Regions from separate parts of the Homo sapiens genome. Here region 2 is reported to be linked to region 1. The links are microRNA targets in miRTarBase. Many come from high-throughput screens and were not tested one by one. Region 1 holds a microRNA gene; the other region holds the end of a gene's coding sequence.

Region 1 (3,399 bases):
CTGGGATTACAGGCATGTGCCACCACACCCAGCTAATTGTTTGTATTTTTAGTAGAGACAGGGTTTCGCCATGTTGGCCAGGATGGTCTCGATCTGACTTTGTGATCCGCCCACCTCGGCCTCCCAAAGTGCTGGGATTACAGGCGTGAGCTACCACGACTGGCTACCACTTGACTCTTTAATTAGTCAATTCCAATACCTGTTCTAGAGAGGTACTTATACATAATGCATTTGAGGCAATGAATTGTATTACAAGGTAGAGTCCATTGAAGCCCAAACGCCTATGTGGTATCCTATTCCATGGAGATACCTATTCGATGCTTCCTTCCCCCTAAGCCCTTGCTTCACTTTCCAAAGAAAATAACTGTCAAAAAGGAGACAGCCCGATGCCCATCTTACATCACAAGCTGCATGGCAGACAAGAAGTGATTATCTTGAGGTCTTTTGACTTCTGATCATCCTACCAAAAGCTCCCCCACTACCATTACTCAATTGAACAGGCTTGAAGATTCTCGTCTTTTGTCCAGTAATTGAAGTTCCTTCTTGGGGATTCCATGGGAAGGAAAGGGTTAGGGTCCACAAGTATGCAGTGCTATGATTCCTAACTGCAGATACATATGTAACAGGAAAAATTTTAATACCTCAGTTTCTCTAATCTAGGTTATTCATATTTTCTCTTCTTAGGTCAGCTTTAGTTACTTGTGTCTTTCAAGGAATTTGTCCATTTCATCTAAGTTGTTGATTTACTGACATAAAATACGTTCTCTATCCTTTTAATGTCTGTTTTTGTTTCAGACATTGGTAATTTGTGTCTTCTCTACTGGGACTCAAAACGTAGTACCTAAAATATGACACCTCGGAATACTATTTTGAGCTGAAGGAATTGGAGAAAAATCATGGAAGCAGGATTCCTTCATCATTCTCACCTGAAGCAGTTTATAAACCTGGGATAAGTTTTCTGATCTTTCCCTTAAGCAGGTCTCTCGTGTGAGAGGTGCCCTCTCTACACCTGGAAGAGAACATTCTTATCTCTAAAGACAAAGTGTTGGCTGGGTGCAGTGGCTCACGCCTGTAATCCCAGGACTTTGGGAGGCTGAGGCGGGTGGATCACCTGAGGTCAGGAGTTTGAGACCAGCCTGGCTAACATGGTGAAACTGTCTCTACTAAAAATACAAAAATTAGCCAGCCGTGGTGGAGGGCGCCTGTAGTCCCAGCTACTCAGGAGGCTGAGGCACGAGAATGGCATGAACCTGGGAGGAGGAGGTTGCAGTGAGCTGAGATCGCGCCACTGCACTCAAGCCTGGGTGACAGAGCAAGACTCCGTCTCAAAAAAAAAAAAAAAAAAGTCACAAAGAAATCTAAACTTAGGTCTTGCTAAGTTTCCCCCAGTTATTATGAGATCATACCCTTTATGTCCTATCATATTTCTCCACAACTGTCTACTCTTCATCAAACCTACTACAAAACACACTAACACTTATCTGTTTCTTTGGGTCTTCATTTCAATATGAAGACTCCTGTACCATATAAAACATATTAAATAAATTTGATGGTTTTGTCTTTCTCCCTCTTTTTTTCTTTTCTTTTCTTTTCTTTCTTTCTCTTTTTTTTTTTTTTTTTGTGGAGACAGGCTCTTGCTCTGTCATCCAGGCTGGAGTGCAGTGACGCGATCTTGGCTCACTGCAACCTCCACCTTCCAGGCTCAGGTGATCCTCCCACTTCAGCCTCCCGAGTAGCTGAGACTACAGGCACACACTACCACATGCAGCTAATTTTTTTGTTGTTTTTTTAGAGATGAGGTTTTTTTTGTTTTTGTTTGTTTTAGAACAGCTCAGCAAAATAAAATTCCTGTTTATTGTTGGACAACATTGTTTCACACATACATCAAACAGGCCAAAAAAAAATAAACAGCAACTTCACAGACAAGGAAAAAAAAGAAACCTTTTATCTTTGGCCTTTTTAACCATCTCATACAAACCAACTACTTATAGTACAGCTAAGTACATACACAAAAAAGTTACTGGAATGCTCGGAATAAGATGGTTTTTCTGTTGTCATTTTTGCATTTTTTACAAGTTTTTTTTTCTCCTTTGAGATTATAATGAACATGGCCACACCACAAGTAAAGTGAGAAGTAGGACAGAGAACGCTCCGAAGGCTGGTTTGGTCATCCGAGATCATTAAAAATGGCCGACCCTAACAATATGTACAAAAATATAAAATGTAAATAAAAAATACAAGTTTCCTTTTTAAAGTACTTTTAAGAAAAAAAAAGCAGGGCCTTGGAAGTTTTGGTTCTTTTTCCCTCCCCTGTTGCAAATTCTCATGGTTTGGGTTGGGTGGTGGAGAGCGCGTGTCATCTGCGGGTGGCACTGCCCACGGTGGGCGGGCGGGCCCCTCTACTCGAAGGTGACCACGTTTAGATTCTGAGACGGGAAGTGGAGGGCGAATAGGTCACGGCGGCCTTTTTTTTTTAGTTTAACTTTTCCTTTTTTGCTGTCTGGTCATCCTCGTCGGTCTTCTGCTTCTGGGTATCGACATCGTCATCCTCATCATCTTCAGCTGCCCGCTTGCCCGTAGCTGACTCAGCTCCCTCATCTTCATCTCCGTCCTCTTCCTCACCATCACCTTCTTCCTCCTCCTCTTCCTCCCCACCTTCTTCCTCTTCTTCATCTACCTCGTTGTCAGCCTCCGGCTCCCCATTTTCCTCATTAGCATTCCTGTTAGCAGGGGCGTCTCTTCCATTTTCCGCCTCTTCCACAACTTCCTTCTTCTCCTTTAAGTCCTCGGTGGTGATTTCGGAGCTGGTGTCTACGGCTGCGTCTGACATGGTGGGGCACGCCGGTGACGCGATGCAGGGGATAAAAAAGAAAGCGAGAGTTCAGGGACTCTGGCGATAAAGCTGCCGGAGTCCGCGGCGGCGGAGGAGGCGCGCGGCGGAGGCGGCTGCGGCGAGCAAGGAGGCTGACGAGGCACAATGCAAAGATGGCTTTTCAGAGCAGCCAGTGGGGAGATGAGGTTTTACCATGTTGCCTAGGCTGGTCTTGAACTCCTGGGCTCAAGCAGTCTGCCCACCTCAGCCTCCCAAAGTGCTGGGATTACAGGTGTGAGCTACTATGCCTGGCCAAAAAATCTACTTATTTATAGCTCCATCCCCACCCCATTTGGTTGTTTGTAACAAAGTTATATCTTTATCCATGTTCCCCGAAACATAAACTAATAATTATTTTAAACACATTAGAATTTTAAATTATGGGCCGGGCGCGGTGGCTCACGCCTGTAATCCCAGCACTTTGGGAGGCCGAGGCGGGTGGATCATGAGGTCAGGAGATCGAGACCATCCTGGCTAACAAGGTGAAACCCCGTCTCTACTAAAAATACAAAAAAATTAGCCGGGCG
Region 2 (3,399 bases), not on the chromosome of region 1:
GAAAGACGGCAAACCGTGCCAGGCGGGTGCCCCCGCGCCGGGCGCCGCCAGCCTACAAGGCCACGCGCAGCAGCAGGCGCAGCACCAGGCGCAGGCCGCGCAGGCGGCGGCAGCGGCCATCTCCGTGGGCAGCGGTGGCGCCGGCCTTGGCGCACACCCGGGCCACCAGCCAGGCAGCGCAGGCCAGTCTCCGGACCTGGCGCACCACGCCGCCAGCCCCGCGGCGCTGCAGGGCCAGGTATCCAGCCTGTCCCACCTGAACTCCTCGGGCTCGGACTACGGCACCATGTCCTGCTCCACCTTGCTATACGGTCGGACCTGGTGAGAGGACGCCGGGCCGGCCCTAGCCCAGCGCTCTGCCTCACCGCTTCCCTCCTGCCCGCCACACAGACCACCATCCACCGCTGCTCCACGCGCTTCGACTTTTCTTAACAACCTGGCCGCGTTTAGACCAAGGAACAAAAAAACCACAAAGGCCAAACTGCTGGACGTCTTTCTTTTTTTCCCCCCCTAAAATTTGTGGGTTTTTTTTTTTAAAAAAAGAAAATGAAAAACAACCAAGCGCATCCAATCTCAAGGAATCTTTAAGCAGAGAAGGGCATAAAACAGCTTTGGGGTGTCTTTTTTTGGTGATTCAAATGGGTTTTCCACGCTAGGGCGGGGCACAGATTGGAGAGGGCTCTGTGCTGACATGGCTCTGGACTCTAAAGACCAAACTTCACTCTGGGCACACTCTGCCAGCAAAGAGGACTCGCTTGTAAATACCAGGATTTTTTTTTTTTTTTGAAGGGAGGACGGGAGCTGGGGAGAGGAAAGAGTCTTCAACATAACCCACTTGTCACTGACACAAAGGAAGTGCCCCCTCCCCGGCACCCTCTGGCCGCCTAGGCTCAGCGGCGACCGCCCTCCGCGAAAATAGTTTGTTTAATGTGAACTTGTAGCTGTAAAACGCTGTCAAAAGTTGGACTAAATGCCTAGTTTTTAGTAATCTGTACATTTTGTTGTAAAAAGAAAAACCACTCCCAGTCCCCAGCCCTTCACATTTTTTATGGGCATTGACAAATCTGTGTATATTATTTGGCAGTTTGGTATTTGCGGCGTCAGTCTTTTTCTGTTGTAACTTATGTAGATATTTGGCTTAAATATAGTTCCTAAGAAGCTTCTAATAAATTATACAAATTAAAAAGATTCTTTTTCTGATTAAAACCCTCCTTTTTGTTTTGTTTTGATTTGGCTTTAAATGGCTTTGAGGGGCGGGGGCTTGGGAGGATCTTGTCTTTGGTCTGATGAGATTCAAATTGTTTGGGTTTGAGCTCAAAGGATTCTGAACCGGTTAAGGAGGTAAGGAGGCCAGGCCCAGAGTCCTTGCCCCACAGGAAGAGGGAGTTTTGTTCTGCCTCAGAAATTGTGTGGAAACAAATCTTGAGCAGTCCTGAGACTGCAGTGGAGGACCGAAATACCAAACTACTTCCACCAAGAGGGAGAGGGAGAGAGGAAGAGAAAGAGACCAAATAATTCATTTTCTGAGTCAGACTTCTGTTGATAGGAGTCTCAGAACTGTCTACTGTGGTCTCACAAAGCTGAGCCAAAGTTTTAAAACAGTGAGAGAGGACACCCATTTTAAATCAGTCTGAGTGAGTTATGGTTTTCAGTGAATGGATCACCTCTGTAGATTTGAACATCAAACCTTTATTTCTAATCAGTGGCTGAGCTCCTTCACAGAATTCGATGGGAGGCTGTTTTCGAAAGTAAGGAAGTCATTCAGGGGTTTTGTTTCTGTCCTAAAACAGGGACCCCTCTAGGGGACCAGCAGCAGACGCCTTCAGCCCCTGCTGCTTTTGGCTCCTTTGGCCTCCAACGGGGTAACACTGGGTGACAGGCCTGAGGACATCCCAGGAAGGACTTTGGGAGCTGAGATTTCACTCTTTGTTGTACTGGGTTTTATCTCTGGGATCCTAAATTTTTGTAGTAATGAATCTTTCTCCTGTTTACAGTTCTTCACCTCCCAGCCACTACCTCCCACGCCAAGCAAAAAAAATAAATAAATAATAAATCATTTTTGATTCCTTTCTTCCAACCTCTAATTTCCTGGTTTCCTCAGCGCTCAGTGTTTGTGTTGGGAGACCCATTAGGGATGAGAGAGAGGGGAGAAGGAATGGTTTTGAACACAGAAAAATTGTAGTCCCCTGGATGGGCTGTAGCCCTTCCGGGTCACCCTTGCCAAATCTCCGGTCGAAAGGCAGCTGAGCCAGCTGCGGGCAGACGCCCCTCCCAGCACTTTCCTCTAGGCCTGGAAGTATTGGATTATGGGCAATTGATTCTTATTTGGCATGTACTCACTTCTCGCCCAGGTTTTCAACTTTCTTTTTCTTCCTCTCTTCCCCTCTCTCATTTCGTTATTCGTCTGCATCTCTTCCCAATCCCTCTCTCCCGCTCCCCCACCAAGAGCTTGTGAGGAAAGCAGACTGGCCGGAGTCCTCGCTCCGGGCCCAGCAGTCCTCTTTGTTAACTTCCTGGAGCCTCCTCTGGCGTGGTGCCTTAAGACTGTGGGCTAGGCCGGGCTTTCTCCCTCAGAAACCTGGGCCTCACTGCTGAGACACAGTTTCCAACAGCCAGAGGGACTCGAAGATTCCCAAGAGGATGGTTGGGTCTAGTGAGAGTGCTTGTTGGAAGGCGGGGAAGGGAGATTTTAACAGGTCTCACGTTTTGGAAAACAAACAAATTTGACCACTTGCGTTGGAATGGTCAGCTGTGGTTCCGGGACCGGGAGTGTAGGTGGCTAAGGCACCCAGCTCAGGCCGGCCGGGCAGGGGACATGGATACTGCAGCTGCTGTTTGGCTCTAGGTCCGGATCCCACGGAATTGGAGCTTCGCTTAACCTGCCCCAGCCTAGCCCAAGCCCGGGCGGGGACCTGGCTGGCGGTGCCCGGCTGTGGTTCTGGCGGCTGCCCCGCACCCCATTCTAGCTGGGAGGAAGCCTTTGGGAGTCACAATTTTAGTAGGCTGTGGCACCCTCGGCCTTATCATCTTTGCATTGGATGGAGTTTCCATCAAATACATTCTTCTCCTCGCCGTCTACAGTCGGCATAGTTTGAAGTCTGTTTACTTGTCCCGGGGAAAGGTGAACTCAATCGGGTTTGCGGACCGAGACAAACAGGACCTCAGCCTCTTTCTTGCCATCAATTACGCTGGCTCCATCCGCTCCCGCTCCCGGCTGGGGGAATTGTCGCAGCTGCGGGAAGAGACCTAGAACGCAATCTGAAGCGTTTCATTAGGGAAATAGGTGCGCGCTGGGAGCAGTGCAAGAGGGTTCCGCAACCTGGGGACACCCTCCGCCCCTACAGCACCGTCGGCTTCTGGAAAGCCGACAGTCCTCCTTTCTGGGAATCTCCTGCATCA

What was found. Region 1 holds the annotated microRNA hsa-miR-1244 (AAGUAGUUGGUUUGUAUGAGAUGGUU, at 1,962-1,987, opposite strand). A microRNA usually pairs through its seed, bases 2 to 8, with sites in the 3' UTR of a target mRNA and lowers its output. Matches are read on the target gene's strand: a 7mer-m8 pairs with bases 2 to 8, a 7mer-A1 pairs with bases 2 to 7 and ends in A, and an 8mer does both.
Region 2: the mRNA of NKX2-1 is a reported target of hsa-miR-1244. The part of its 3' UTR that is shown has no 7-base or 8-base seed match.

Annotation. Positions count from the first base shown.
Region 1 is chr12:12,110,594-12,113,992 of GRCh38, reverse strand. It overlaps MIR1244-4 (microRNA 1244-4), which reads right to left and starts at 2,041; the gene lies at 1,957-2,041. It also overlaps the pseudogene PTMAP9.
Region 2 is chr14:36,514,204-36,517,602 of GRCh38, reverse strand. NKX2-1 (NK2 homeobox 1) reads left to right here. Exons shown (of 3, transcript NM_001079668.3): 3 at 1-1,206. The coding sequence ends at 325. All of the region lies in intron 1 of SFTA3 (surfactant associated 3), which reads left to right. Among named protein-coding and RNA genes, the nearest start is that of NKX2-1-AS1, 3.4 kb to the left of the region's middle. RefSeq lists enhancers at 1-112, 2,335-2,962.